Linked DNA regions of Homo sapiens: regions 2, 3, 4, 5, 6 and 7 are each linked to region 1. Evidence: fine-mapped expression QTL. A gene starts in region 1. Each other region holds a variant in brackets. All regions are shown on one strand. Distances are from middle to middle. Region 1 holds the start of UPK3B (uroplakin 3B). Region 2 has its middle 200 kb from the start of POMZP3. Region 3 overlaps LINC03009 (long intergenic non-protein coding RNA 3009). Region 4 has its middle 53 kb from the start of SPDYE17. Region 5 has its middle 170 kb from the start of POMZP3. Region 6 has its middle 190 kb from the start of SPDYE17. Region 7 has its middle 51 kb from the start of POMZP3.

What was found. PIP is the estimated chance that this variant, and not a neighbour inherited with it, causes the effect. A credible set is the group of variants that fine-mapping cannot tell apart.
Region 2: its variant is the best candidate, but not a certain one, in a credible set for the expression of UPK3B in tibial nerve (GTEx, PIP 0.88).
Region 3: its variant is the best candidate, but not a certain one, in a credible set for the expression of UPK3B in transverse colon (GTEx, PIP 0.80).
Region 4: its variant is the best candidate, but not a certain one, in a credible set for the expression of UPK3B in monocytes after R848 (Quach 2016, PIP 0.70).
Region 5: its variant is the best candidate, but not a certain one, in a credible set for the expression of UPK3B in whole blood (TOPMed, PIP 0.79).
Region 6: its variant is the best candidate, but not a certain one, in a credible set for the expression of UPK3B in monocytes after Pam3CSK4 (Quach 2016, PIP 0.89).
Region 7: its variant is the best candidate, but not a certain one, in a credible set for the expression of UPK3B in whole blood (INTERVAL, PIP 0.73).

The regions. Positions count from the first base shown.
Region 1 is chr7:76,508,945-76,513,013 of GRCh38, reverse strand. It overlaps UPK3B (uroplakin 3B), which reads right to left and starts at 2,462. Exons shown (of 6, transcript NM_001347684.2): 1 at 2,277-2,462; 2 at 1,962-2,111; 3 at 1,132-1,357. The coding sequence starts at 2,361. It overlaps LOC124901675 (a long non-coding RNA gene), which reads left to right and starts at 2,281. Exons shown (of 2, transcript XR_007060388.1): 1 at 2,281-2,490; 2 at 2,906-4,069. RefSeq lists enhancers at 1-446, 447-1,098, 1,852-2,424, 2,425-2,997 and a silencer at 3,875-4,069.
Region 2 is chr7:76,821,001-76,825,069 of GRCh38, reverse strand. No RefSeq gene overlaps it. Among named protein-coding and RNA genes, the nearest start is that of POMZP3, 200 kb to the right of the region's middle. The variant ATG/G (reference allele first, on the strand shown) is at 2,480.
Region 3 is chr7:76,555,410-76,559,478 of GRCh38, reverse strand. The region is part of intron 2 of LINC03009 (long intergenic non-protein coding RNA 3009); the gene reads right to left. Among named protein-coding and RNA genes, the nearest start is that of LINC03009, 8.1 kb to the right of the region's middle. The variant T/C (reference allele first, on the strand shown) is at 1,576.
Region 4 is chr7:76,977,610-76,981,678 of GRCh38, reverse strand. It overlaps the pseudogene DTX2P1 and the pseudogene DTX2P1-UPK3BP1-PMS2P11. Among named protein-coding and RNA genes, the nearest start is that of SPDYE17, 53 kb to the left of the region's middle. The variant C/A (reference allele first, on the strand shown) is at 1,938.
Region 5 is chr7:76,797,583-76,801,651 of GRCh38, reverse strand. No RefSeq gene overlaps it. Among named protein-coding and RNA genes, the nearest start is that of POMZP3, 170 kb to the right of the region's middle. The variant G/A (reference allele first, on the strand shown) is at 1,827.
Region 6 is chr7:76,843,546-76,847,614 of GRCh38, reverse strand. No RefSeq gene overlaps it. Among named protein-coding and RNA genes, the nearest start is that of SPDYE17, 190 kb to the left of the region's middle. The variant C/T (reference allele first, on the strand shown) is at 1,833.
Region 7 is chr7:76,675,774-76,679,842 of GRCh38, reverse strand. No RefSeq gene overlaps it. Among named protein-coding and RNA genes, the nearest start is that of POMZP3, 51 kb to the right of the region's middle. The variant G/A (reference allele first, on the strand shown) is at 1,926.

The sequences.
Region 1 (4,069 bases):
CCCCAGGCAGCTCCTCTGGGGCCCTCCCATGGATGTGGAGTGGGGGTGCCCGTCAAGAGCAGCAGCCCATGGCCTGGCCCTGCTCTGAGAATCCCCTGAGATGTCTCCAGCCACTTGGCCTGTGCCACCACCCCTCATCCCCCCGAGCAATTGCTCTCCAGACACCAGACCTGGGCCGGGGATGCTGGTTTAGGGGCCCTGGTTCCTAAATGTCACAAGCCAAAAGAGCAGGTGAAGGTGGCTTAGCAGGGCACATGGGGCAGGGGTCACAGGCCTCCCAGAGGGGCAGCAGTAGCCGGGGGCAGGGGGCTCAATCACCAGCAGCCTGAGGACCCAGGGCACCAGGAGCCCCGCAGAGGGCCTCGGTTTGTCTCTTTGCAGGGCTGGGAGCTCTGCAAGGCCTGGGAAGCGGGGAAGGACCTGGCAGGTTGGCATTGAAAAGAGTGGCTGCGGGGGATGGGGCGGGGCATGGAGCTGGAAGGCTGAGCCAGGGTGAGGCAGCGGGGAGGGCAGAGGGTGGACCTGGAGAGTGGGTGAGAGGGCAGAAGGGGGCTGGGCGGAGCGGGGTGCTGTTCCAGCCTCACCACGCCCTGCCTTCCCGGCTTCCCCTGGGCCTGGTCTTCCTGAGGTCACCCCGCCTCCTCCTGTGTCCGGACAGTCCTGACCTGGACACACTGCCTGCTTCCCCATCCCGGCTCCACCCCGATGTTGGCAGGCCACTTGACCTCCTGTGCCTCAGTTTCCTCATCTGTAAGAGCGGGTAGGAGCCACCTCTCCTGCTCCCTGCCTAATACCGACGAGACTGGGTCTGAACTCGGCCCCCGAGTTTCCTGCCAGATCTGCCCGTGGTGGGGGACAGGGGCCTAGACTTTGGGGAAGCTGCCCCCTCCCACCTTGACTAAGATCCCGCCTCCCCAAGGTGCCCACCTGCTCCTCCTGGGCCTTGCCCGGCCCCAGCGGGGGTGAGCACTGTTGCTGACTCTACAGTGGAAGGAGCCCGGGCTTGCAAAGGGGAGGACCGGGGCCGGGGACCCCTCCCTGGAAAGATGCTAGAGAGAGCATCCCTGGTCCCAGCAATGCGTCCGCCCCAAGCACAGCCCCAGTCCCAGGGCTCCGGTGGGGACCACCCACCGATAGGGTCCAGGGCCAGGGAGGGGCGCGTTGCAGAAGGGCTGCTGGTGGCAGCCGTGGTCATGGCCCACCCGCAGCACGGGGGCGCCTCCGCTGCCCGCCATGGGGTCGCCACAGGGCAGCTGGTCCGGAGACAGGGGCAGCGTCATGTAGTGGCCATCGGTCAGCAGCTGTGGGGAGGCCGGAATGTCAGCCAGTGTCTCCGGGTTCTGGAAGCCCCTGGAGGCTGCAGGAGGAGAGAACAGATGGAGGTGGGAGGGGAGAAAGCAGCTTTGTCCTTATGAGTGGGGGTTCTGTGTTCGCCCAGTCTCCAGCCCTGACCCCCCATGCCACCTCCTCCCTCAGGGCCCCCAGAGATAGTCCAGACCCAGTCGACTTTGTTACCCCTGAAGGGGAGCTTCCCTCTGGCCTTTTGTCCCCACCCAGAGCCAGGAGTGGGGAGCAGCGGGCAGTCCCAACCTGCCCAGCCCCAGCCCCAGCCCCATTGCAGTGCACCGGCCCTGCCCCACAGGAGGCCACATCCTCCCAGGTCGCAGCCTCGGTTCCCTGTCCAAAGGAAGAACTACTTGGATTCAGAGAAAGGGTTGCAGAGCCCTTGACAGCTGACAAACCCACCACTAGCACTACTCCCGGGATTTGGTGTTCACTACGTGTGTATTTTTCAATACACATATTACCCCTTTAGATAAAGCCCAATTCATCCACACCTACTCTCCCAAAGGCCCCCACAGGGGCTCAATCATTGAAGGCGCTTGCTGGTGAGGGGCTCCTAGGGCCCACCACTCTCCTCAGCCGTCACCCTCACCCAGGCCCCACAGCAGTCCCCGTACCATTGCTGAAGGCCACCACGAGCCAGACGGTATCGCTGGCGCTGGCAAGCCCATCGAAGACACAGCGCGGCTGCTCCAGGGAGAAGGTGGTGGCTGTGACCTTCCCTTCCAGGTCCCAAGCTGTTATCTGTGGTGTGTAGGGCACCAGCTCTGTGGCCACGGGGGACAAAAGGTGAGCCACGGAGACGGGCGTGGGGGTCCCTGGGGCTGCCTCTCCCAATCGGAGGGGGGCGGGCGCCCAGGGTCCAATCACTCCAGCAGGGCCCCCAGCCCCTTGGGTCTGGCTGGACGCGTCCATCCAGGACCCCCACTCACCCAGGCTCAGGCTGGGCCGGAGACAGTTCAACGCCAGGAGGAGCATCTGCAGCCCTAGGTGAGGCTGCCCCCAGGGTAGCCCCATGACAGCTGCCAGCACCCGGGAGGCTCAGGGGCTGGTCTGGCTGCTTCGGGCTGCACCTCACCCCCAACAGCTTGGCCCTGGAGAAGCTGGTTAATCAGGCTGCCCCAGGGGCTGGAAAGACCTGCAAATGTAAGTGCACCCCACCCCCTTCCTCCCAGGCCAGCCCACAGCAGGGAGGAGCTGGGGGGACTCTGGTGGGAGGCAGGCCAGTATCCAGCCCCACTGCCAGGGCCAAGGGAGAGGGGCCACTGGAACCCCAGATGCCAGCCAGGCCATCCCGGAGCCTGGATTGGGGCCCCTCCCAGTCTCTCCGCCCTGGGGAGGAGGGTCTGGCTTTTGGAAACAGGCTCAGGACCACATGCCTGAGATTCCTGTGCCCCAGGTGCCAGGAGCCTCCCTCTGCCTTCTGTCCCCACCCAGAGTCAGGAGTGGGGAGTAGCAGGCAGCCCCAACCTGCCCAGCCCCATCCCCATCACAGCACGCTGGCCCTGCCCCCCACGAGGCCACATCCTCCCAGTTCGCAGCCTGGGTTCCCTGTCCACAGGAAGAAGAACTTGGATTCAGAGAAAGGGCTGCAGAGCCCTTGACAGCTGACAAGCCCGCCACTTAAACACTACTCCCGGGATTTGGCGCTCACTATGTGTGTATTTTTCAAGACATAACTCACATACCTTCACAACCTTCACAGCTCAGTGGCTTAAATATATATATGTCACCCAGGGAGGTCAGTTCACAGCTAACTGGAGCCTCAAACTCCCAGGTTCAGTTAATCCTCCCACCTCAGCCTTCCCAGTAGCTGGAACCACAGGCACACAACACCATGCTCCGGCTAATTTTTAAAATTTATTTAATTAATTTTTTTTTAAGATGGAGTCTCCTTTGTTGTCCAGGCTGGAGTGCAGTGGCGTGATCTGGGCTCACTGCAACCTCCGCCTCCTGGGTTCAAGCGATTCTCCTGCCTCAGCCTCCCAAGTAGCTGGGATTACAGGCATGTGCCCCACGGCCAGCTAATTTTTGTATTTTTAGTAGGGACGGGGTTTCACCATGTTGGCTTGGCTGGTCTCAAATTCCTGATCTCAAGTGATCCACCCGCCTTGGCCTCCCAAAGTGCTGGGATTACAGGCATGTGCCACCGTGCCTGGCACCCCCGCCAATTTTTTTTTTGTTTTTTTTGAAACGGAGTTTTCACTCTTGTTGCCCAGGCTGGAGTACAATGGCTCGATCTTGGCTCACCGCAACCTCCACCTCCTGGGTTCAAGTGATTCTCCTGCCTCAGCCTCCTGAGTAGCTGGGATTACAGGCATGTGCCACCACACCTGTCTAATTTTGTATTTTTAGTAGAGATAGGGTTTCTCCACGTTGGTGAGGCTGGTCTCGAACTCCTGACCTCAGGTGATCCACCCACCTCAGCCTCCCAAAGCGCTGGGATTGCAGGTGTGAGCCACTGCGCCCGGCTGGCCAATTTTTAAAAATGTATTTTTTATAGAAACAGGATCTTGCTATGTTGCCCAGGCTGATCTCTAACTCCTGGGAGGATCAAGCAAATCTCCTGCCTTGGCCTCCTAAAGTATTGGGATTACAGGCGTGAGCCACCGTGCCTGGCTATTTTTTTTTTTTTTTGAGACATGGAGTCTCACCCTGTCGCCCAGGCTGGAGTGCAATGGCGTGATCTCTGCTCACTGCAACCTCCACCTCCTGGGTTCAAGCA
Region 2 (4,069 bases), 310 kb before region 1:
GTGGCAAACATGATTGCATAATATGGAAAGTTTATCCCAGAGAAAAATCAAATTCTAGGACAGTCTTTTGTTGGGAAACATTTCAAGACACAAATTTGAATGCAAGCTACCTGAATATCTAACTCACTCCACTGATGTGCTTTCTAACATTATCCTCTAATGCATAGTTGGCCTGGGGAAAAACAACAAAAATAACAAAGACAAACAGAAAGAAAGCACATGAGAAATGCAGATACAATTCTGCAAAAGAACAAATAGAAAAAAGGTAAGAACGCATCAAAAATATTTAGTCATAAAAGACATGAAAATAAGAAAACCCTTCTCTGAGAATTCAAAGAAAATTTTTTAAAGTCTTCTGATACATATATATGTGTATATATATGTACATATATACATGCATATACATATACATATATACATAGATATGTGTATATATACACATACATATATATGCATGTATATATACTACATACATGTATATATACTCACACATGTATATACACATACATATATGCATGTATGTATACACATATATACACATATGTGTACATATATACACATACATATATACATATATATGTATCAGAAGACTTTTTAAAAAATTTCTTTGAATTCTCAGAGAAGGGTTTTCTTATAATTTTCATGTCTTTTACGACTAAATATTTTGATGTGTTCTTACCTTTTTTCTATTTGTTCTTTTGCAGAATTGTATGTGCATTTCTCATGTCCTTTCTTTAAATGTATACATATATATTTATATGTGTATATTATGTGTATATTATGTTACTACCAGAAAATCTGAAGAAGAGAATATGCTTTCCAAATTATAAAAGTAAAACATGCAAATACAAGAAATATAGACAATATAGCAAAAATAAATGGCATTAAATACAGAAAGTAGAACTTGAAATAAAATGCCACAGCTAATTGCCATATCAGTAAATATCAATGAGATAAAATTGCTCATTAAAAGACCACCAATTTGGACCACAAAATGACACAGGTGCTATTATGATATTCATCTAAAATCAATAAAGGCAGGAAGCAAAATATAGGTAAACAAATTAAAACTAAAAGCAAGCAAGAGTAATTTTATTAAAATTATACAAGGTCCACTTTAGGGAAAACTGCATGAAACTACCAAACGAAAGACAATGAAAAAGTTTAAATCTACAATTAAAGTTTGGTATGAACCTTAAGCTAAATAGCATAGTACCAAAATTCGAAATGCCAATTTTTTTACAAATGCAGGACAATTACACTGAGTGGAAAAAGCCAATCTCAGAATATTGCATACTCCATGATTCCATTCAGACTCCATGATTCCATTCATTTTTGAAGTGACCAAGTTATAGAGATGGAGAACAGATGTGTGCTTGTCAGGGCTTAAGGAGGGACTGTGAATAGAAAAGGGTAGCAAGGGAATCCTTGCGATGAAACACAAGTCTGTATCTCGACCACAGTAGTGCACACAGGAAATTGCACTGTGACAACATTGTGTAGAACTAACACACACACACAAGTGAATGTAAATCTGACATCTGAATAAGGTAGATGCATTGTGTCAGTGTCAACTTCCTACTTGTGACATTGTCCTGTAGTTATGCAAAACGTTACCAGTGAGGGAAAATGGTGAAAGGTATATGGAATTCTCTCTGTATTATTTCTTAAAACTGCAAATAAATCTACAATAATCTCAAAATTAAAAAAAGATCAAAATGTCAAAATGGTTTAAAACAACCATAAATAAATTTGAATGGAAAATAAGAAACTGGAAAAACCTGCCAAGATATATGAAAATTGGCTCATTTCTTCTAACTTATTAATTTTTAAAAATAGGCCAAGATTATAGACAGATAATTCACAGTAAGAGAAACTCAAAAGAGTTTTAAATATGTAAAAACCTACTCATATTTGCTCATAATAAGACCATTATGGTTTGTATTTTAAACTACAATGAGATTTGTAGTTTGTAATTCAAACAGCAATGAGATAGCTTCTTAGTTACTGTACTTGCAAGGATCAAATGGTTTGATAATAAATGGCATTGGCAGGAAGTTTGAGGACAAAAGCAATTTTGTGCACTGTTGGTGGGAATATAAGTGAATGTTTCACTTTGAAGGCTATTTGGCACTATGTATCAAAATTAAAAATTCACTTGCCGGGTGACAGAAATTTCACTTCTCAAGATTTGTGTTAACAGGTATATTAGCCCATATGTAAAGCACAGTATGAATAAGCATTACATGAATAAGAAAGGACTGGAAATGGCATAATTGTTCATTAAAGGCCAGTAATTCAATAAATTATGGCACAACCATGCAATAAAATATGCTATTGGGAGAAATGAAGTAGCTCTCTCTATGTTCTGAAAGGGGGTAATCTCCAAATTGCTGTGTTAAGAGAAAATCACAAAGTCATGAATAGTGTAATAAGGTATCTTCAAATGTGTAGCATTAAAATATACACATATATATAT[ATG/G]CACAAACAGACACATGCTTGCACATACACGTTTCTGGAGAGTTTACAAGATATTCAATAGTGACAGCAGAGATCTCTGTTTGGAGAACTGCATTCATTCTCTTTAGAGCCCTTTGTCCTGCTTGATATAGTTAATGCATATGTTTGTCTTCATTACTGATGTGTCTTACCAGAGCCTAAAATTTGCTCAGTACATTGCAGTCGTTAAATAAACATTTGTTGAGTTGCACTGAACAATATTTCTATGTTGTTCACCTTCAAGGAGTAGCGCTCAGTATTGCACCCACTAATTTGTCTGTAGAAAACTTCATGCTTTTTATAAATATTTTCGAATACATTATTTTATTTGATCCTCAAATGTTTTTCAAGTTATACAAAGTATGTGTACTTTTTATATATGTGCATATTTCAATTATTCCTTGCAACTGAGTTATTGGTACCTGTATGATTGCATTCCTCGTATAAACTGTATGTTCACATTTTGTTGATTGTCCCCCTTTGCTTTTCAGTTCTCTTCTTTTACTCTTCTGATGAGTTCTTCCCTTGACTCTTAACACGTTAATCACCTACCACACTTTTTTATTACTATATGCATGATTCATTATTTTTCTTCCTGCTTTCTGTTTTATCAACAAAATGCTAATATTAAAAAAAACAATGCAAGCTAGTTCTCTTTGTGTTCTCCCGCATTCCTTTGAAATCTATTTAGAAAGTAAGCATTACAATTTTCCCTCCCCACCCTCACCCCCACCCACCTATCTATAGAGAAACAGTTTTTTTCCCCAGCCCAAGAATTATTGGCTCAGGTCAGCAGTTTATCATAAAATATTCTACATGACATCCATGCTTTGTCCTAGCTCTTCTATTTCCTGTAGACTCTTAAAGATCTTTTTTAATACCCTTATTCTCAAATACATCAATTTCCGTGTTATAAGGAGAGAAGGCCTTTGCAGTTACTCTATGTAATACTTTCCTGACTTCTTTTTTTAAGGATCTCATTCTGTATTCTTCATTTAATGTATTCTTTTGAAAAGTGAGCTGTTTCAGCTAGGCCCATTTCATAGTATTATTTACACTTCTGTTTCTATTTTCTGAACCTTTTACCTTCCTCCTAATTTTTTAAAAAACTCAAGTAGTCCACTAAAAATAGGATCACACTGTGTCCATTTCCACAGCAGTTCATTTTTTTTTCTGCTTTTGATCACTTGTTTATGGTGCATTAACAACTTTGTCCCTTTACTAATTTCTTACTTTTGAAATAGTTCCACTTTAAAAAAAACTTCTCAATCATTTGCAGTTTCTTTTTAAGCATGATATGAATCTGCCTGTCCATTTTTATCTCCTAGGCTTAATATCTCAGTCTTCCCGACCACTGTAGGATGTTTCTAGAAATTTCTTAATCTTTCTTCTTTCTTCTATTTTGTTCGTTGGATTTCCAAGAGTTTGCTTATAGTTTTCTCATTGTATCTTTTCTCTGTCTTTTTAGTGATCATGTCTGCTGATGAGATGCCCACATTCTTTACTCTGAGCTACAATTGTTAGAATAGACCTGGCTGGTTTATTAGCCAGGATGCTGCATCACAAACAG
Region 3 (4,069 bases), 46 kb before region 1:
AAGTTGTGGTTTTTCCAAACAAGTAAAAGCAATAAGAGGGAGGCAGGCAGTTAAGGATGTATATGTGGAAGTGATTGTTAAGGATTTCCCATGGAATTTATCTTGAGTTATGAGAAGTTAGATTAGAAGATCAAAGGGTTGAGGCATAATGAAAAGTTGATTGAATCAATTGATTGGAGATCCCAGTGGGATTAAAGAATTTTTGTTGTCTGGAACTAGAGAAAGTAAACTGGAAAGACAGATGGTGGAAATCAGAGAGAGGGACAAATGTACAAAAAGGGAGAGAGAGGAGGTGTAATAGGAAATTAGATGAGGTTGAAGCAGCAGCCAGGATCCCAATCCAAATGTCTGAAATGTGTTTGCCTAAGTGTATATTATGTATATGTGTGTATAAGACACACAAAAGACGAACTGCTGTATCAATCAAATCAATCAAAAGATATATCCACTTCCAAAAATTTTAATAGATTCCATGTATCCTTTTAATAATATTGCAATTTATACCATCATAAACAATGTGTAATATTTATCATTTCTTCAAATACATGCCAAAATTAAATTAGTGCTGATCTATATAAATTTACCCTATTTAAGGGGCAAAGTTATTGCAGGTTATTTAAATAAGTATTTTTAAAGGTTTATAGGACATTTTTATATCATTTATGTTGAATATTTAGAGTTTTGCTTATTATTTTATGTGTTTGCATTTTAAATTATATTGACTTCTAGAGGTTCTGTATTTGATGTGTGTATTAAACATTTATTTAACACATATGTTAAAAGTATACTCTTTTGCTCTGTGCTCTGTCGCTTCTATTGTAGTTTAGTTTGTGCTGCCTTTCCCTACACAGGCATACCTTGCAGAAGCTGCAAATTTGGATCCAGATCACTGCAATAGAGCAAATATCACAATAAAGCAGGTCACATGATTCTTTTGGTTTTCCAGTGCATATAAAAGTTATGTTTATGCTATACTATAGTCTATTAATTATGTAATAGTATTATTTCTAAAAAATAAAATGCATACCTTAATGAAAATGTTTTATTAAGAAATGTTAATGATCACTTTCGCTTTCAAGCCAGTCTTAATCTGTTTGCTGATGGAGGACCTTGCCTTGACAATGATAGCTACTGACTGATCAAGGTGGTGGTTGCTGAAGGATGGGGTGGCTGTGGCAATTTCTAAAATAAGACAACAATGAAGTCTGCCACATCTACTGACTCTTCCTTTCATGAAAGATTTCTCCATAGCATGTGATGCTGTTTGATAGCATTTTACCTACAGTAGAACCTCTTTCAAAATTCAAGTCAAATTTTTCAAATTCTGATGCTGCTGATAAAGTTTATCAAATATTCTAGAATTTTGTTATCATTTCAATAATGTTCACAGCATCTTCACCAGGAATAGATTCCATTTCAATAAACTTATTTCTTTGCTCATCCATAAGAAGCAACTCCTTATTTGCTAAAGTTTTATCATGAGACTGTAGTGATTCAGTCACATCTTCAGGCTTTACTTCTTTTTTTGTTTGTTTTAATTTTACTTTAAGTTCCTGGATACATGCGCAGAAAGTG[T/C]GGGATTGTTTACATAAGTATACATGTGCCATGATGGTTTCCTGCACCTATTAACCTGTCATCTAGGTTTTAAGCCCCGCATGCATTAGGTATTGGTCCTAATACTCTCCCTCCTATTACTTCCCATCCCCTAACAGGCTCCGGTGCGTGTCCTTCCCCTCCCAGGCAGGCTTTACTTCTAATTCTAGTTCTCCTGCTATTTCCACAACATCTGCAGGGACTTTCTCCACTGAAATCTAAAACCCCTCAAAGTAATCTATGAGGGTTGGAATTAACTTCTTCCAGATTTCTGTTAATGTTGATTTTTGACCTGTTCTCATGAATCACAAATGTTCTTAATGACTTCTAGAATGGTAAACCCTTTCCAGAAGGCTTTCAATGTACCTTGCCCAGATCCATTGGGGAAATCACTATCTATGGCAAATATAGCATTATGAAATATATTTCTTAAATAATAAGACTTGAAAGTAAAAATTACTCTTTGATCCATGGGCTGCACAATTGATGTTTTATTAGCAGGCATGAAAACATTAATCTCCCTGTACCTCTCCGTCAGAGCTCTTGGGTGATTAAGTTATTGTCAATGTGCAATAATATTTTGAAAGAAATCTTTTTTCTGAGCAGTAGGTCTTAACACTGGGCCTAAAATATTTGTATACCGTGCTATCATCTAGGCTTTGTCATTCCATTTATAAAGCATAGGCAGAGTAGATTTTGCACAATTCTTAAGGGTCATAGGGATTTTGGAATGGCAAATAAGTATTGGCTTCAATTAGAAGTTACTAGCTGCATTAGCCCCTAAGAATCACATCAGCCTGTCCTCTGAAGCTTTGAAACCAGACATTGACTTCTCTCTTACTATGAAAGTCCTAGATGATATCTTCTTTCAATATAGGTTGTTTTGTCTACATTGAAAATCTGTTGCTTAATGTAGCCATCTTCATCAGTTATCTTAGCTAGATCTTCTGGATAACTCACTCCTGCTTCTACACTAGCACTTGCTGTTTCACCTTGCACTTTTATATTACAGATACAGCTTCTTTTCTTAAACCTTATGAGCCAACCACTGCTAGCTTCAAACTTTTCTTCCGAAGCTTCCTCACCTCTCTCAACCTTCACAGAATTGAAGACAGTTAGGGCTTTGCTCTGGATTAGGCTTTGGCTTAGGAGAATGTTGTGGCTGGCTTGGTATTCTATCCGGATCACTAAAACTTTCTCCATATCATGAATAAGCCTGTTTTGCTTCCTTATCATTGATGTGTTCATTGGAGTAGCACTTTTAATTTCCTTCAAGAATTTTTTCTCTGCATTCATATCTTTGCTAAATGTTTGGCACAAGAGGCCTAGCTTTTAGCCTATCTCAACTTTCAACATGCCTTCTTCATTAGTCTTTTCACTTGAACATTTAGAGGGCCATGGAGGATTATTAATTGACCTAGTTTCCATATTGTTGTGTCTTAGGCAGTAGGGTGGCCTGAGGAGGGGAAGGAAGATGGGGAATGGCCAGTCTTTGGAGTAGTCAGAACATACACATTTATCAATTAAGTTTGCCATCTTATATGGGCATGAGTTGTGATGCCTCAAAGCAATTACCATAGTAACATGGAAAATCACTGACCACAGAACACCATAACAGATATAATAATAATTTAAAAGTTTGAAATACTGTGAGAATTACCAAATATGACACAGAGACAGAAAGTGAGCACAGGCTTTTGGGAAAATGGTGCTGATGGACTTGCTTGATGCAAGCTTGCCACAAAACTTCAATTTCTAAAAAAATTCTGTGAAGTGCAATAAAGCAAAGCATAAAACAAAGTATGCCTGTATTAGCAATTAAAGTTTGTGTATAGTCAACTATGTTAATCTTGTTTCATAGTTTCTTAATTTTCTATATGCTTAAGAGCTTTCCTCCTAAGATATATATGTATTATTCTACATTTTCTTCAATTTTGTTTATAATTTTTCTTTAACACATTTTCCCATTTTTTTTCTAATTATACTGGCAATTTTATAACACCTTTTATTTTAGGAATGAGATGTGGAAATGAATAAATGATAGCAATGAACCTTTAGACATTTCTTACAATGTGCCAGGTGCTGTTCTAAGGCCTTTACTTGTACTAACTGATTTAAGGTTTATAACAACCCTAAGAGGTAGGTGCTATAATTTGCCTCATTTCACGGATGAGGAAACTGGTGTATAGGAAGGTTTAGTAACTTTCCCAAGGTCAAAAGACTGGTGAATTTTCATCCCGTATTCAAACCCAGGAAGTCTGGCTCCCAAGTCACTACATTATATGCTACTGTCTGGTAAGCTATTAAATTATGCCCAAGTATGGGAAGTTATGCTGAAATTGATATTTCAACTGATCTTCAACTGTGTATTGAGAAATAAATAGAACTGTGATGAAAGGAAGTGGAAATAAGAGCCTATACCATAACACGGCACTGTAAGTTGGTGATATTTTCTAGATATGGAGAAAAGATCATT
Region 4 (4,069 bases), 470 kb before region 1:
CTAGACTAGGGCTCAGGGGTAAGGGCTGATACTCTGGTCTCTGGGTCCTTAGGGCCTGGCACAAGGCGGGAGTCAGTGTACAGGCAGTGACCCAGTGTTCTCGGGCACAATGCTCGCCATGCAGCCCGCAAGCAGAGGCCACAGGCCTTTAACTGCTCCATGTGGAGGCCCTTAATCATCGTGAGTGAAAGGACTGTAGATTCTAACCCGTGTGGTGACTGCCAGGACTCAGGTACAAGGGGTCAGGTAGGCTCTGGACGGCCACGGCACCTCGGCACCCACATGCCACATGCAAATGAGATGCCACGGCAGGACCACCTAGGGGGCAGGAGCCGCATCTGCAGGAATTGGGGTGAGTCTTCCCAGCTAAGAGCAGAAACACAGGGCAGACAAAACGAGCGGCCGTTGCCCACGATACCTGACTGCACCGGAGGTGGAGGATCCTGGGGGCAGGTGCTGCGGTCCCAGGTGGGAGAGGCTGGAGCGGTAGAGGGGCTGGCTCCCCAGGGAAGGAGGAGCTGCGTCCCAGGCGTTCGTGGTGTTCAGCCTGGGCGCAGACCGGGCCCCGGAGAGTGAGGGTTTGTTGTATGGTGCAAAGGCCTGGTGGGTCCCAAACACAGAAGCGGTCCTGTGGGGGGGGTGCTGGGGGGCGGGGTATGCAGGGAGGTTGGTCATGGAGTGGCGGTAGCGGCCTGATACAGGGCCAGTTCTGCTGCCACTGAGGCACTGGTGGCAAGAGCAGGCGACGCCTGTGTGGCCCGGCGGAGCGATGATGGTGGTCACTGGGTAAGGCGGCCCTGCTTGGCGCCGCACGCTGCAGCAGAAGCTGGAAGTCTTGTTGGTCTGCGTGTGGGTGGTGTAGTTGACAGTGTAGTTGTACCCCAGGGGGGCCAAGTCCACGAGCTGGTTGCCCCTGGCCACCTGCTGCTCCAGATCGTCACAGACGCCGGCTTCATAGGCGGTCCAGGAGCCATCGTCGCTCAGCCACTCCCAGACGACACCTCGGCCAGGGGCTGAGTGCTGGGGGAACAGGTGTCTCCGCACAGTCCGCATGGTGCCTGTTTTCAAAGGAAAACCAAAGGTTAGTCTGCTAGCATCCCCAAGATACAGGGAACGTTCAAATTCTTTTTTCAACCGCCAAAATAAACAAATAGGAACACAGTAGGTACACAGTCATGCTGCTATTTGTTTATTTATTTATTGTTAGAGGCAGGGTACCCCTTTGTCACCCAGGCTGCAGTGCAGTGATGTGATCATAGTTCACTGCCACCCTGACCTCCTGGGCTCAAGCGATCCTCCTGCCTTAGCCTCCTAAATAACTGGGACTACAGGCACATGACACCACACCCACCTAACTTCAAATCGACCTCTACAACACCTGCCACTTTCATTCCCCGATTAACACTTCCTGCTCTCTGCCACGATATGCAATTTCCATGTTATTATTTATCCTGTCTGCTATCTTTGTCAGTTGACTTCACACACTGTGAAGGCAATGACTTGGGAGCTGACTGACAGCCACAGTTTTCACAGACTCTACGACACTCCTGGAAACACAGTTTCCAGGGCTGGGCATGACGGCTCAAGCCTGTAATCCCAACACTTTCGGAGGCCAAGGCAGGAGGATCACTTGAGCTCAGGAGTTGAAGACCAGCCTGGGCAACACAGGGCGATGGAGACCCAGTCTTTACAAAAAACAAACAAACAAACAAACAAACACGATAAAAAAAACCCATACTTTTTAAAATAAAACTAAAATTAAAATTGAAAAAAAAAAGGAAAAACCAGTTTCTCAAGTTTCCTCACTGGTGACACTGTGGGCCAATAATTCCTTACTGCAGGGCCAGCCCAGTGCACTGCCGGATGGCGAGCAGCATCCCTGGCCTCCACCCACCAGATGCCAGGAGCACCCCCACCTCCCACCCACTCAGCTGTAA[C/A]AACCAACAGTGTCTCCAAACATTGTCAGATGGCCCCGGGGACAAAATCACCCCCAGTGACAACCACCAGATTAGAGTAAGGGATGGCTCCGAGAGGAAACTGGTGCCTCATTCTCAATAATACTGATCAAAACACACTGCAGGTCCAGGTGCGGTGGCTCATGCTTGTAATCCCAGCACTTTGGGAGGCCGAGGCAGGCAGATCACCTGAGGTCAGGAGCTCGACACCAGCCTGGCCAACGTGGCAAAACCCCGTCTCTACTAAAAATACAAAAATTAGCCAGGTGTGGTGGCGGATGTCTATAATCCCAGCTACTCGGGAGGCTGAGGCAGGAGAATCACTTGAACCCAGGAGGCAGGGGTTGCAGTGAGCCGAGATTGCACCACTGCACTCCAGCCTGGGCAACAGAGCCAGACTCCGTCTCAAAAAAAAAAAAAAAAAAAAAAAAAAAAGATCAAAACACATCGCAGACCAAAAAGCAGAAACGCACACACGCAGAGGGGCGCAGTTGCCTGCCCAGGGCACACAGCCACTGAGTGGTGGGACAGGGCCCTCTGAACTCCTATGACGCACCACCTCCATGCTGGCCTGCCGGCCAAAGGAACCCTTCAACCTCTGTGGTCGGAACAGGCATTTCTGCTTTGCAAGACAAGGGGAAGGGCCTCCCACAGTGCCTCTCCCACTGTGAGCTGCACTCAACCTATGTGGATGTTCCCACTCACTGCACCCACCCACCACCACGTGTGCTGCAGGGAGAGAGCAGAAGCTCTGTAAGTCACGTCCATCACCCCAACACCTGGCGCAGAGCCTGTGGGAAAGCAGGTGCGGCGCCCAGATATGTGCGAGAGGCAGACAGCGTCTTACCGGTGTCCTGGCGGAACTGGGTCCAGCTGGGGAGGTCAATAATGTAACGGGCCAGCGAGGGGTCTGCCTGGCCCAAGGGGATGCTGTGGGCCAGGCTCCCAAGCCCAAAACGTTGGCCCTTCTGCTGGACAAACTGCTGCTCGATGAAGCTGCAGATGGTGGCACTGTAGGGGTGCCAGGTGCCCAGCCCATCCTGCCATAGCCACAGCTGCGGGGCTGGTGTACACCTGCACCAGGGAAGGGCTTGGGGCCATGGCCATCTTCCCAAGGAGTCCCGCTGCTTTCCCAAACAGCTTCAGACCCCTCTGGCCTGGAGTCCCGGGGTCATTGCCCAGCGCCTCCGGCAGATCTGTGAACAGGACAGACATGAGCAGTTACCAATGCACATCAGTAGCCCTGCAGAGTCAGCCTCAGCGCAGGGGAAACACGTGATGCTTTTCCACAGCTGATTTTTTTTTTTTTTTTTGGTTACAGGGTCTCACTCTCTCACCCAGGCTAGAGTGCAGCAGTGTGATCTTGGCTCACAGCAGCCTCAAACTCCTGGTCTCAAGCAATCCTCACAACTCAGCCTCCAGAGCAGCTGGAACAATAGGCATTCACCACCACACCCAGCTCATTTTTTTACTTTTTGTAGAGATGATGTCTGTGTTGCCCAGGCTGGTCTCAAACTCCTAGCCTCAAGGGATAGACTCGCCTCAGCCTTCCCAAGTGCTGGGATCACAGGTGTGAGCCACCGCGCCTGGTCTCACGCTTGCTTTTCTTCCCCTAACACCTTAAGGGCATCATGAATCAAGAACCTGATCCTGTCTCTTTGCTGTGGCAGCCAGGAAGAATTCAAAGTCAATCCCGCAGCCTACGTACCACCGCACAGGCCCATGAAGAAAGAGAGCATAAATTCCGGGTGCTAGTCACCAGCCCAGCTTCTTTCTTGCTACTGATAATTCCCCTCTGACCCAACTGCTTAGTGTGTTTCATCATGCATGTATTTTTTTTTCTTTGAGATGGAGTTTCACTCTTGTCACCCAGGCGTGTGATCTCGGCTCACTGCAACCTCCACCTCCCGCGTAGGTTCAAGTGATTCTCCTGCCTCAGCCTCCCGAGTAGCTAGGACTACAGGCATGCACCACTGCGCCCAGCTAATTTTTTGTATTTTTAGTAGAGTCGGGGTTTCACCATGTTGGCCAGGCTGGTCTCAAACTCCTGACCTCAGGTGATCCACCCACCTCAGCCTCCCTATTAGCACCCACCATCCTGAAGATGAGAACCC
Region 5 (4,069 bases), 290 kb before region 1:
TCCATTTCTATGTATGACGATCAATTGATCTTTAATCATTTTCATTCTTACTCCTGTCTTCTCTGCTTCATTTTTGATTTGCACTCAGTTCCTTGCAGTCTTTCTTCTTGGCTTGATTATTCTACATTAACAGATTTGACAGAGCAGCTTGGGAAGCCTCTGGGAGCAGAAGACCAACATATATAAATGTTTACTGCAGCTGGGGAAGTTACCTAGTTACATCTACTCTCCAAGATGATAGGGATGGTATGCTCAAAGTGTCTGCAGGGAAGCTTGAGGGGAGTTTTAATGCAATACCCTTCTTCACTTAGGCTTAAAAGACTTAAAGCTATCTAATGTCCCAGGTTAAACTGCATGATGGACTATTCCTGTTAGCATATGAAATAGAGTCATTTTTGATATTTTACAGTCTACATGCTCATACTGCCACACATGAAGTTTTCTCGAATGATTTTATGGATAATAATGTAGCCATCGGTTATGTAGACCTAGGAAACAATCTCTTTTTTGCTGATTCTTAGAGGATACTTAAGGCTCATGTGATAAAACTGCTTCATATGTCTCTGGAATAATAAAACATAAAATTTTGTTGGTAATTAAAACTTTAAATGAAGCATGTATCATGCTCTTATAGGGTAAAATTAGTGATGAAAATATTTAATCCCCTAGAAATGCTTATTGCAGTTTATGTCCTTTATTATTTTAATGTAGCTTGAAAATGAGAAGTGGTTTTGGGTGGCATAAATATAAAATTATATTGACAAAGCAATCAATAAGAAATCGCCAACAGTCACAAAAATATTGTGGAATGTATGACATAACATAATATAGACATTGTCTCTACTGTATTTAAAACTGGAAGCAAGTATTCTTATTACTGGCTGAGCTTACAGAGAGCACAACAAACTGTGAGCTCCCTGAACACAAAAGCAATTTTTCATCATCTCTTTCAATTTATATACCCACAATAACTGACAATCTTGGTTAGTGCTTAAAAGCCCTAGCTTCTAGAATACAATGGTCATTTTGAAAACAGGGTCTTCCATTTAATGGAGGTATGACCGTGGACAAGTCATTTAACTTCCTCTGTCTTGGTTTCCTTATCAGTAATTTTAACAAACTGGTAATACCTACTTCATATGCAGACTGAAGGAGTTAATTACATTGAGAGTGTTTAGAATGGTGTCCAGCACATAGTAAGGCCTATCTAAATGTTTGCTATTATTGTTGATATTTCTATTGTTGTTGTTATTATAAGTGCCATTAGAATTATTTTTACAATGTCTTACAATTATCTGATGACAAGTGCTATGCTTATTGAATGTGGTTAAACTTACATGTGTGTTTTCTTTTTTTGCATTTTTTTCTTCATTTAGGAAAATTAAAAATGTCCACTGAAAGTTAGGGTAATAAAGTGTCCTTGTTCAGCAAACATGAGAGAAATATAGTCACTACCTGGCCCATTCTAGTTCTGCTACAGCTTGAACCATTGAGGTCAGGAAACTATCAGCAGCTTTCTCCCCACTGTAACCCAAAGGCTGGAGTGTGGGGAGATAACAGATCATCCTGCCACCTTCCAAAATTTGCCTTTATAAACAGCCTACCTGGTGTTTTTTTTTCCCTCCTCATACATGTATTTCTTGGACATTTTATTAGTTAAGATGCTTTCTATAGCAAATAAGAGAATGTCAAATTTAAATTGGCTAAACCTACAAAAATATTCATTGCCCTCCTAACTGGGAGTCTAAAGAAGGCCTGATTTAGGGTTGCTCTTTCTGGTGATGAGTCTCTTTCCCCTGAAATTCCCTTGGCTCTCCCTTCCTCTG[G/A]GCACTGGTTTTATCCTAAAGTGGTAACCAGTCTCTGACCTCACATCTGCATGCAACAAAGTCTGAGGGAAGAATATTATACCTTCCTGTGTTTCTCAACTACTAATAAGGAAACATTTCCCAGAATCCCTCCAAATTTTTTACTTTCATTTGATTGGCCCAAATAAGGTCACATGCTTACTCCTTTAGCCAATTTCCATGGCTTAAATGTGAAATCTTGAGGGATGACCATTACAGGTTTAGGCTAAGTAGGGTCCACCACCTGAGCTGGGCTCAATCTTCAAACTGCTTGGCTATATGAACTGGGTATTACCTAGCCCACCAAAACATTTACCACAGACATTGAGGATTCCTCCAGGGCCCTGGCACCTTCAGTAGCTTAAGGCAGATCCCTATCAGGAGAGAGGAGATTTTTTTCAACTCATGGTATTTCCTCCAGAGCATTCCCTAATTTAGATCTACCATGATCTAAACTGAATATCGTGAATTTAACAAGCTAATTAAACAGACTGAACAGAATTGTCGGCATTATTTCAGAAGTGATGTTTTACATCCATCCTGAAACACTGGGCTAGATGTTCCAGTATATTAAAACATGCCTGAATCTAGTTTTTTATTCCTTGGGTTTGATTTTCTGTGAATTACTGCATCTTCTTTATTTTCACTTTGATCCCCAGGGTTGCCCACATACCATAGTCCTCCCTTTTCTTCTATACTTTCCCTCTCTGCTTTGCTTTCACTATATTCTCAAATTACCCTATGATTGATACCAGTTATCCAAACTTCTACTGTGACCTTATGCATGCTTATTGTCCATACTGTATACAGATCATCCGTGTTAATACAACACTAGTCTATCTTTAATGATTATGATGGTGGGGACTGCAGCATTTTCACTGCCAGGTAAATTGTTAGGCACTAGTTGTATGATTGTTTAAACTAGACATGTGTGGTTGTTAAAACACACACACACACAACACAAGCTGTGATAGGCTCTATGAAGAAAAATAGTATGATAGAGACTACAAAAAGGTGAGTGACAAACTAATTTAGATTGGATTGTCAGGAAGGTTCTTCTGGGAAACTGACATGTAAGATGACACTTGGAGGATGAGAAGAAGCCTGGATATGAAGAGTAGAGGGCACAGCTTTCTAGATGGAGGAAACAGCATATGGGGAGAATAGCCAGGGGAGTCTGCTGGGGCTGAGTGAGTGTGGGCCACAAGATAAAAACAAAGAAATCAGCAGGTCTGGATCACTGAGGAACATGGAGGCAAGTTTAGGAGAGTGAAGTTTATTACAAGTTCAGTAGGAAGGCTCTGAAGAATTATAAGCCAGACAGTGACATCCTCAGGGTTTAACATTTTACTGCTCATTATAGATGCTTTCTAGATTAAAAAAAAAATAATTGGGAGGGCATGAATGGAAAAGACGACTTAGGAAACTGCTGAAATATTCCATGCTGGAGAAGACAGTATTTAGACTATAGCGGTGACAGGGAAAAATGTTAAAAAACAAAAAAAGTGAATTAGTGATGTAGTTGGAAGGTAAAAGCAATTTTCTACAGAAGCATTTCATTTAGAAATTGATGGAAGGAAAATAAATCAAGAGTGACTCCTATATTTCCGATGTGAACAACTGTGAGGAGATGGGTTCCCAAGATGAGCAGGGTGAGTGAGGAAAAGGTTGTTGGGGTTCTTTGAGAGTTTAGTTTCATTCAGATTAAATCCAAGTAGAGCAGTCAAGAAGGCAGTCAGATATAAAGTCTGGTGCTCAAAAAGAGAAATCTTAGTTAGAGATAGAACTTTGGGAACTGTAAGCAAATAGATTGTATTTAATGCCACAAAGTTGGATGAGGTCAATTACAGATAGTAGTAAGTAGAGAAGAGATGATAAGATGAGTGAGGGAAAAGTTCTGGACAATCCCAATGTTTACAGCTTAAATGAAACAATGGAGCTGTTGAAAGAGCTTGAGATGTGGTTGCAGAGAGAGGGGGAAATCTAGGAGAGTATGAAGTCATAAGAGCCACGTGATATTTCAAGAAAGAGGCATGATTAAGAGTCTGGAATGCTGCTGAGGAGTGTAGTAAGATGAGAATTGAAAAATGCTCTTTAGATTTATGTGGAAGTCATTTGTGACTTGGAAAAAATGGTTTTATTGGAGTAGGAAGGCAAGAAGTCAGATTGAATTGTCTAATGTTGACAGGTAAGAGTTAGAAACATTGGCTGTAGACAACATTTGT
Region 6 (4,069 bases), 330 kb before region 1:
GAAACATTAAAAGTGAACTTCGCAATTTCCTTAAAAAATAGTTGAGACTGTGGAGAAACAAAAATTAGTTGGAACTTAGTGAACTGAAGAACTGAACTTCAGTGAACTGAAGAAACAAATTCCACTCTGGGTAGATCGACTTCCTAATGTCACAAGTCAATTTAGAAATTATGTACAAGATAAATCTCTTTTCTCTCATTGCACCAATGTATTTATCTTAATCACAAGCATCAGTGGAGACAGAGACTGAAAAATAAATTGTTCACTGTCTCCAAGACAAACCCCAAATAGGAAACTTGATATTCTGCCGAAAGTCTATCTCTGGAATATGCTTTGGAAAAGCCATGGTATAATTATATGTAGTATTATAGAGATTCTTGTGTGTATAAATATTTTCAGGCCGGGCGCGGTGGCTCACGCCTGTAATCCCAGCACTTTGGGAGGCCGAGGCGGGCGGATCACGAGGTCAGGAGATCGAGACCATCCCGGCTAAAAAAACGGTGAAACCCCGTCTCTACTAAAAATACAAAAAATTAGCCAGGCGTAGTGGCGGGCGCCTGTAGTCCCAGCTACTTGGGAGGCTGAGGCAGGAGAATGGCGTGAACCCGGGAGGCGGAGCTTGCAGTGAGCCGAGATCCCACCACTGCACTCCAGCCTGGGCGACAGAGCGAGACTCCGTCTCAAAAAAAAAAAAAAAAAAAAAAAAAAAAAAAAAAAAATATTTTCAAAAGCCTTTGAAATTGTTTGTAAATCCAAAGTTTATAAATGACTTATGAAATCCACAAATTTGCTAAATATGTTTCTGCATTTTTGTATTATGCTCTCTGATTTTTCTTTCTATGTGGTGTAAGTCAAAGAAAATGATATACAATATGGCTAGATGGGACTAAAATCTCCAAACAAAAGAAGCATCTGTTTTTCTAATTTAGTTTTTGAATTTATGTTGGTTTCACAATTGGTTACACTGCAAACAATGTGGTTCAAATGACAATGACACTGATTACAATTCTACTTTGCACTAAGAGTGCTTTTTATTCAAGATTGTCAACTCCCATAACTAACAATAACTAAGCCTTTCAGCACCTCTGTACCTTGGGTATTGTTTTACCCAATGTGAAGCAGATTGAACTGTAACTTTGCAGGAGGCTAGCAAGTTTTTCATGAAGCCAGAGAAGGCTAGAATTTTAAAGTCAGCAAGTTGCAACAGTTTCTCTTGATGTACATTTGGAAATATTAGAGCAAGGTACTTATGAATATGATTTCTTCCCTATGCTCATTTTTTCTAGTACTTTGAAATGACTCCAACCTCAGAGACCATGGGCCCTTAATTCTTAATTAACTATTAATGGTTTTCTTTAAAAAACATTAATTATTGCTTTCTTCCTGTTTCTATGCAGTGTGTCCCTACTGTCTCCCTTAGCCAGTGGAAGAGGTTATAAGTGGATAGCAAGCCTTCGGAGTTACATCCTGCCCCACAGATCTCTGAGATAGTTTCTATCAATTGTTGTAGTCCTTAGAAAGTTCTTTAAATATTCATGTCTGCACCTTGTTTTCTTAAAAATCTATTTACATCTATGCTCTGTCCACATAGACTATCAATCCTTTCAAGACTGGAAGAAATTTGAATTCCCTATTTCCTCATTCATTCATTCATTCATTCTTCATTTGCTTATTCAGGAAACATTTATTGGATACCTATGATGTGGAAGACAGGTATGCTAGGTGCTGGTTCATGGGAACAAATGAACACATTTTTCTTCTTAAGATAGTGATTGTTTCAATACGGCGAGGGCCCCAAGGGAAATCCGTTGGAAACTGAGTTTACTAATGTG[C/T]TCTAGTGAAATGGTTTCATGATGTAATTTGTGCCTATAATATCAGAAGCTTTACATTGTGTAACTTCTACAGTTGTAATGTTTTAGTCCTGATGACTGCCATTTTGTACTTTCTCTGTTGAGTGGAAACCTTGCCTTCCATGAACTGAAAATGGAAAACTCTAAATCATCTCTTGAGGGTTTTATATTCCTATGATATCTTCAGTGATTTCATTAGTGTTTAGTTTTCTATTAAAATACACTCAGAAAAAATAACTAATGAATACAAGTCTTAATACCTGGGTGATGAAATAATCTGTACAACAAATACCCATGACACAAGTTTACCTATGTAACAAACCTGCACATCCTGCACATATACCCCTAAATTTAAAATAAAAGTTAAAAAATAAATAAAGTACACTTTGTATTATAAGTAAGATAAACCTAATGGCCATTTTTAAAATGAAAAGAATAATATGTTATAATAAGGTAGTAAATGTAGATAATTTCTCAACAGCAAAACCAGACTAGAATTAATGTATGCTTTATCAAGTGGTATGTTATAGTAAAGAGAAATTTCAGCTAAAATGTTTAATTACTATCTCACTAAGAGAGCCAAAAATGGCCTATTACCTAATTCCTGTTTATACCATTATTGACATTAACTAGACATGTAAACTTTGCCTGAGTGTTGTTATAATATGGTGGATAACTAACCTGACTCTGGAATCAGGCAAACTTGGGTATACAACTTGCTTTTGCTTCTCACAAACTGTATAAACACAGGAAAATAATTTTGTCTTACGTAAAATGCAGTTTTAGCAACTGCAAAATGTAATAATAAAAGTGTTTCCATGAATGAATGCATGGAATACTTAGAAAAGAACCTAGTACAAAGTAGCCATACTAGAAATGTTAGATAGTAGTAGTAGTAGTGGGTTTTGAACAAATTGAATTTATGCTAAATTTATTGGAACAGACGAAGCAAGTCACATGAGATCCCAGATAAATTAGTAAGCTATTATTGACTGGTCGGAAAGCAACCAATACTTTTGGGGATTCTCAGGCTATCATTACATAGAAACTTGGCACATAGTTTTATTGAAGTGATCATAGAGCCACTTAGTAACTGTAAGAAATGTTTAGTCATCACAACATCACAACAGCGTTATGAGGTAGGTAATGTGCTCGTTTTATAAGTGAGGAAACTGAGAGTCAGCAAGAGAAAGCTATTTATTAGGGTTGAATAACTGTGAGAAGGGCAGGCCTTGACTCTAGGTTTATTAACTTCCATATGTTTCTTCTGCATGCTTTCCAATAGCCTGTCATTCTAATTAGCATTATTTAAATGTAAGTAGCAATTAGTTCTGTCAAGAGTCAAATCATCAGCTATGATCTAATAATTATTAAATGTCTATTACCTGCCAAATATTATAGAACAGGCTTTAATAAATATTTTATAACATGCTCCTTCAGTCATTAGCTATACTTAAAAGCCATCAATTCTGCCACTGTACTAGCTACCGGGGACACAATGAAGAAGATACATTCCTCAACTTAAAGAGTTTTTTTTTAGAAAGAGGTTTTTTTTTGTATTTTTTAGAGTAGTTTAGGTTCACAGCAAAATTGAGAGGTAAGTACAGAGATTTCCTGTATTTCCCCTGCCCCTGTGTATGTATAGCCTCCCATATTATCAATAACCCTCACCAGAGTATCAAATTTGTGACAATTGATAAACGTACATTGACACATCATTATCACCCAAAGTCCATAGTTTAATTTAGGGTTCACTCCTTGTGTATAGGTTTGGACAAATGTATAATGACATGTATCCACCACTATAGAATTATAGGGAGTAGTTTAACTATCTTCTATGCTCCATTCCTGCCCCCCTCCCCAGGCAACCACTGATTTTATTTTTTATTGTCTCCATAGGTTTGCCTTTTTCAGAATGTCATATCATTGGATATGCAGCCTTTTCAGTTTGGCTTCTCTCATTTAGTAATATGCATTTAAGCTTTCTTCATGTCTTTCCATGATTTGGCAGCTCATTTCTTTTTAGCACTGAATATTCCATTGGCTGAATTATTAATCCATCCATCTACTGAAAAGCATCTTGGTTACTTCCAAGTTTTGGCAATTACAAGTAAAGCTGCTACAAACACTTGTGTGCAGGTTTTTGTGTGGACATAAGTTTTCAACTCCTTTAGATAAATACCACAGAAAGTGATTGTTGGATTGCATGGTAAGAGTAT
Region 7 (4,069 bases), 170 kb before region 1:
TAGAAATGTGTCTATTTTGTAATGAGCTGCTTCACAGTGGAAAAAAAAAAAGGTGGGGAAAGCTGAAACCAATTTTCTAACACCTTAGACTGTAGTCCATCAGAAATGCAAATGTGAAATTCCCTGAAGTTATGATAAGCTTCATAGACAAAACAATGACTTTCATAGAAGATAATTTGTAGCATTCAGGAACTGAAAAGTTGGCTTTGGATGATTAGAGACTCAAAGAAGAAAGGCAGAAGTATCAGTCTGAATGAAGATATGTTTATTCAGCTTACATAAAGTCATAGCCAGCCATCTTACAGGTTTTATTAAATTTGAGTTTCCTCAAGTCTAAAATATTCTCATTCTCATAGCATAAATCGCTAACTTTAAGAGTGTGTGTGTGTGTGTGTGTGTGTGTGTAAATCTGATCATATTGAAATGCAGGTGAATGTTTGGCTCCACTATGTCTATTTACTTAACCTTGGCACTCACCACACAAACCAGCTTGCCCCCTATTTCCATCCATAGCAGCATCAGGTTTCTTTGAAGTCTGTAAACCTAGCTGCCAAGGTAATTCTAGTTTTGGAAAGCATCACGTAGTTGAGACACAAAGTTAGAAATCAGTTAAATATTGAGTTAGGGGTAGGTTGACAGAAATAGGGAATTGTCTGAAGAGTAGTACAGATTGCAGTGATTATTTCAGGGGCAATTTAAGTTCTCTGATTTAAGCCTTCAGCTGGCTGTTAAGGATTGACAGAACAGATTTATTTGTTTGTCCTTTCATTCATTTATTCAACATTTGCTTGAAGGAGTACTTGTTGTAATAGAGAGATGGATAAGCTCCGGAGGCTGGAGCCACAGGTGAGTGGAGGTGGGTGGGTGGAATGGTGGGGAGGGTCAATACCCAAAAACTTTGTTGCACCTTTTTATTTACATGTGTATGACAAGGTAAGAGACAGACACTTTTTAAAAAGATATGATCTTGCAAGATTAACGTGTGCACTGGAAAATTATGTGGGATAGGGAAGGGAGTTTCTCAGTAGAAGGAAGAGTGCTGGTGAAGTTGTCAAAGTTTCCCACCACCTGGTGTATCTACGGGTAACTAGAACAGGTGACTAGGTTGAAGCAAGGGAGGTCACAGGAACAGGTCACATTGGAGAGCTAAGTGTATGCACATGTCACTGAAGTGCTTTAATCGCAGTGCCGTCCCTCCAAGTAGGAGTGCTGAGGATTTCCCTGATACACAAGGCTCTTTCAGGACTTAATTTCACTTCACTCTCTGTTTCTTAGTCTTCTAAATGTTTTGGACCATTAAAAGGGACTGGAGAATGGCCATGCCAAGTGGCCTGTATAAAAAGTAAGCAAAGTCATGGGGCCAGAATGCCATTTTTCTGAATGAACCACAAATGGCATGCTGTTGATGGAAAACCACTGAAGACAGGAAGAAGAGGAACAGGCAGTTTGAAGGTAAGCACAAAAATCAGGCATTGGCTTGGCTTCTGCCATTGGTGAGACTCCCATTCAATGATTTCACACAGCCCCTGAGCTGGCCACCAAAACTGTCTCCTTATTTCTCTCCATGCTGACCTCCTGCTCCCCTCAGCCACTGCTCATTCCCTCTTCTCCCAGACACGAAAATTTTAGGTCGCTTTTCCTCATTCCTCTACACTGTCCTAAGCCTCAGTAGTAGTCTTCTTCTTATCTCTCCCGGAGTGGGAGCTGGATTCTGGTATAAACTGTGCTGATTCCCTCAGGTTTCCTAGCTGAATGTTCAATGCCTGATTATTGACTATTTTATTTGTTTGTTTTGTTTTGTTTTGTTTGAGATGGAATCTCGTTCTGTTGCCAGGCTGGAGTGCAGTGGCGCCATCTTGGCTCACTGCAGTCTCTGCCTCCTGGATTCAAACTATTCTCCTGCCTCAGCTTCCCAAGTAGTGCCC[G/A]CACCACTTGCAGCTAATTTTTGTATTTTCAGTAGAGATGGGGTTTCACCATGTTGGCCAGGATGGTCTCGATCTCTTGACCTTGTGATCCACCTGCCTCAGCCTCCCAAAGTGCTGGGATTACAGGCATGAGCCACCAGGCTCGGCAGACTATTTTCTTTCACTCTGTTTCCTGTTACTACCTTAGCAATGCAAATGCTTTCACTTAACTAAGGGTTACTTAGCAGGATGAGTAATACGCAAGATATTATATAGTTGTCCAGGTAAATAGAATACTTTTTCTCCTTAAGTTAATAATGAGCCATTGAAGTATTTTGGAAGGGAGAAAAAGTCAACAACAATGATTTGCTTCTTAGAAAGTTCCCTTTGTCTAAAGTGGGAAGGATAGATGGTGGGAGTAGCTGACTATAGAGGAGGAAGTGTGGGGAAACTATTGCTCAGGCCTGGGAGAGGGAAAACGGGGCCCTAAACCAAGGCAGTAGCAGATAGGATGCAGAGGAGGTTCTGCACTAAGGAGATGTTAAGGAGACGTGGAGACTACACTCTTGGGGAAATAAAAAGGAACAAAAAACTAAGATAGTCTCTTTTAGGCATAACCAGCTGGGGGGATAGTAGTGCCATTGCCCATATAGAATGCAGAAGTAACCTACTTGAGCAAAATTATTTTGAGTTCAGTTTTGGACAAATTGAGCTTGTCTGAGTGAAGATATATTTATGCTATGGTTCATCAGAGGACCTGGACTAGAAATTTATATTTGGACAGCAGCTACATCATATGGTGGTTGGTGCTCAGGGTGAGAATGAGATGAGGAAGGGAAAGTATAGATGGAACAGTGAGCCTGTGACAGAGCTTTTAGTTCCTCCATTCTTACTTCCTCTACAGAACTGTCGGAATCTTTAAGTAAATCAGCTTCCCCACAGTCCTCAGTGTATTCCACTGGGATTTAGGAAGGAAGACATTTTATTGATCCAGTTTGAGAAATTCTTGCCATCAATAATTGTGAATACTTGCCAGATGGCTCAAAACAAGAAATGAGATCAAATAAAATCTGGAGTATTGCCTGAATGCAAACTTTTATAGGTCTAATGATGTGGTCAAATATATATGGACAGTGTTGAGATTAGAGCTTTCATCAAAGCCGTATGTTTCTGCTTGCTTTGCCTATAATTGCATTCCCATTTGTGGTAACAAAATACCTAAAAGTAACCTCAATGAAACACGTCTAGTGTATATTTAATGAAAACTACCAAATATAGAGAGAATTAAAGCAGACTTAAGAAGTTGGATAGATACACCATGCTTCAAGCAAGAGGGATGTATATTTAAATATATCTTCATGCTAAATTATTTTATTTATTTAATGTAATTTCATTATAAATAAAAGAAATAATTTTTGAAAAACTGGAAATTAAAATTTCAAATTCCATATGTTAAATCATATGAGGAGAGCTAGTTTTCAAAAAATTAAAATGAGGAGCAAGACATAATAGACATCAAATGTTATAAAACTATAATACTTAAGTGAACATGGTACTAACAAAATTAGATAGACCTCGATGAACACTACAAAACATATTTATAAGAATTAGACCTTATCTTCCATGAGAACTACTACAGTCATAGAGGTATCACAAACCAGTGAGAAGGAGACAGATTATTTAATAAAACTGTTTTGGTAATCAGTTTGCTATTTAGAAAATAATGAATTTATATACTCAACTCATATATTATTCCAAAATAAGATATGAGATGCAAACATTCAAACATGAATTCAGGGAGAAATAAAAATAATAATTCATTAAATCACAAGATAATGAGATGGTTATCATTTTAAGTATATTACAGTAAAAATGGATTTTTGGTACATCAAGTTAGAACCTTGTTCAAAAAGAATACAAAGTTAATACAATTAAGTAGGTCACATTAGATGAAATATCAATATTATTAATAGTAACAATATTAATAAATGAAGACTTCAGAAATCAATCAAAAAATCCTATAATTCCAATAGATAAGTGGCCAAGGAATATGATCTGATGTTTAAAGAAAGAGAACATATAAATCGTTAATAAGCACATGGGGAAAATGAAATATAAATTTTTATTCTATTAAAATTAAGCATATGAAATCGTACATAATAATA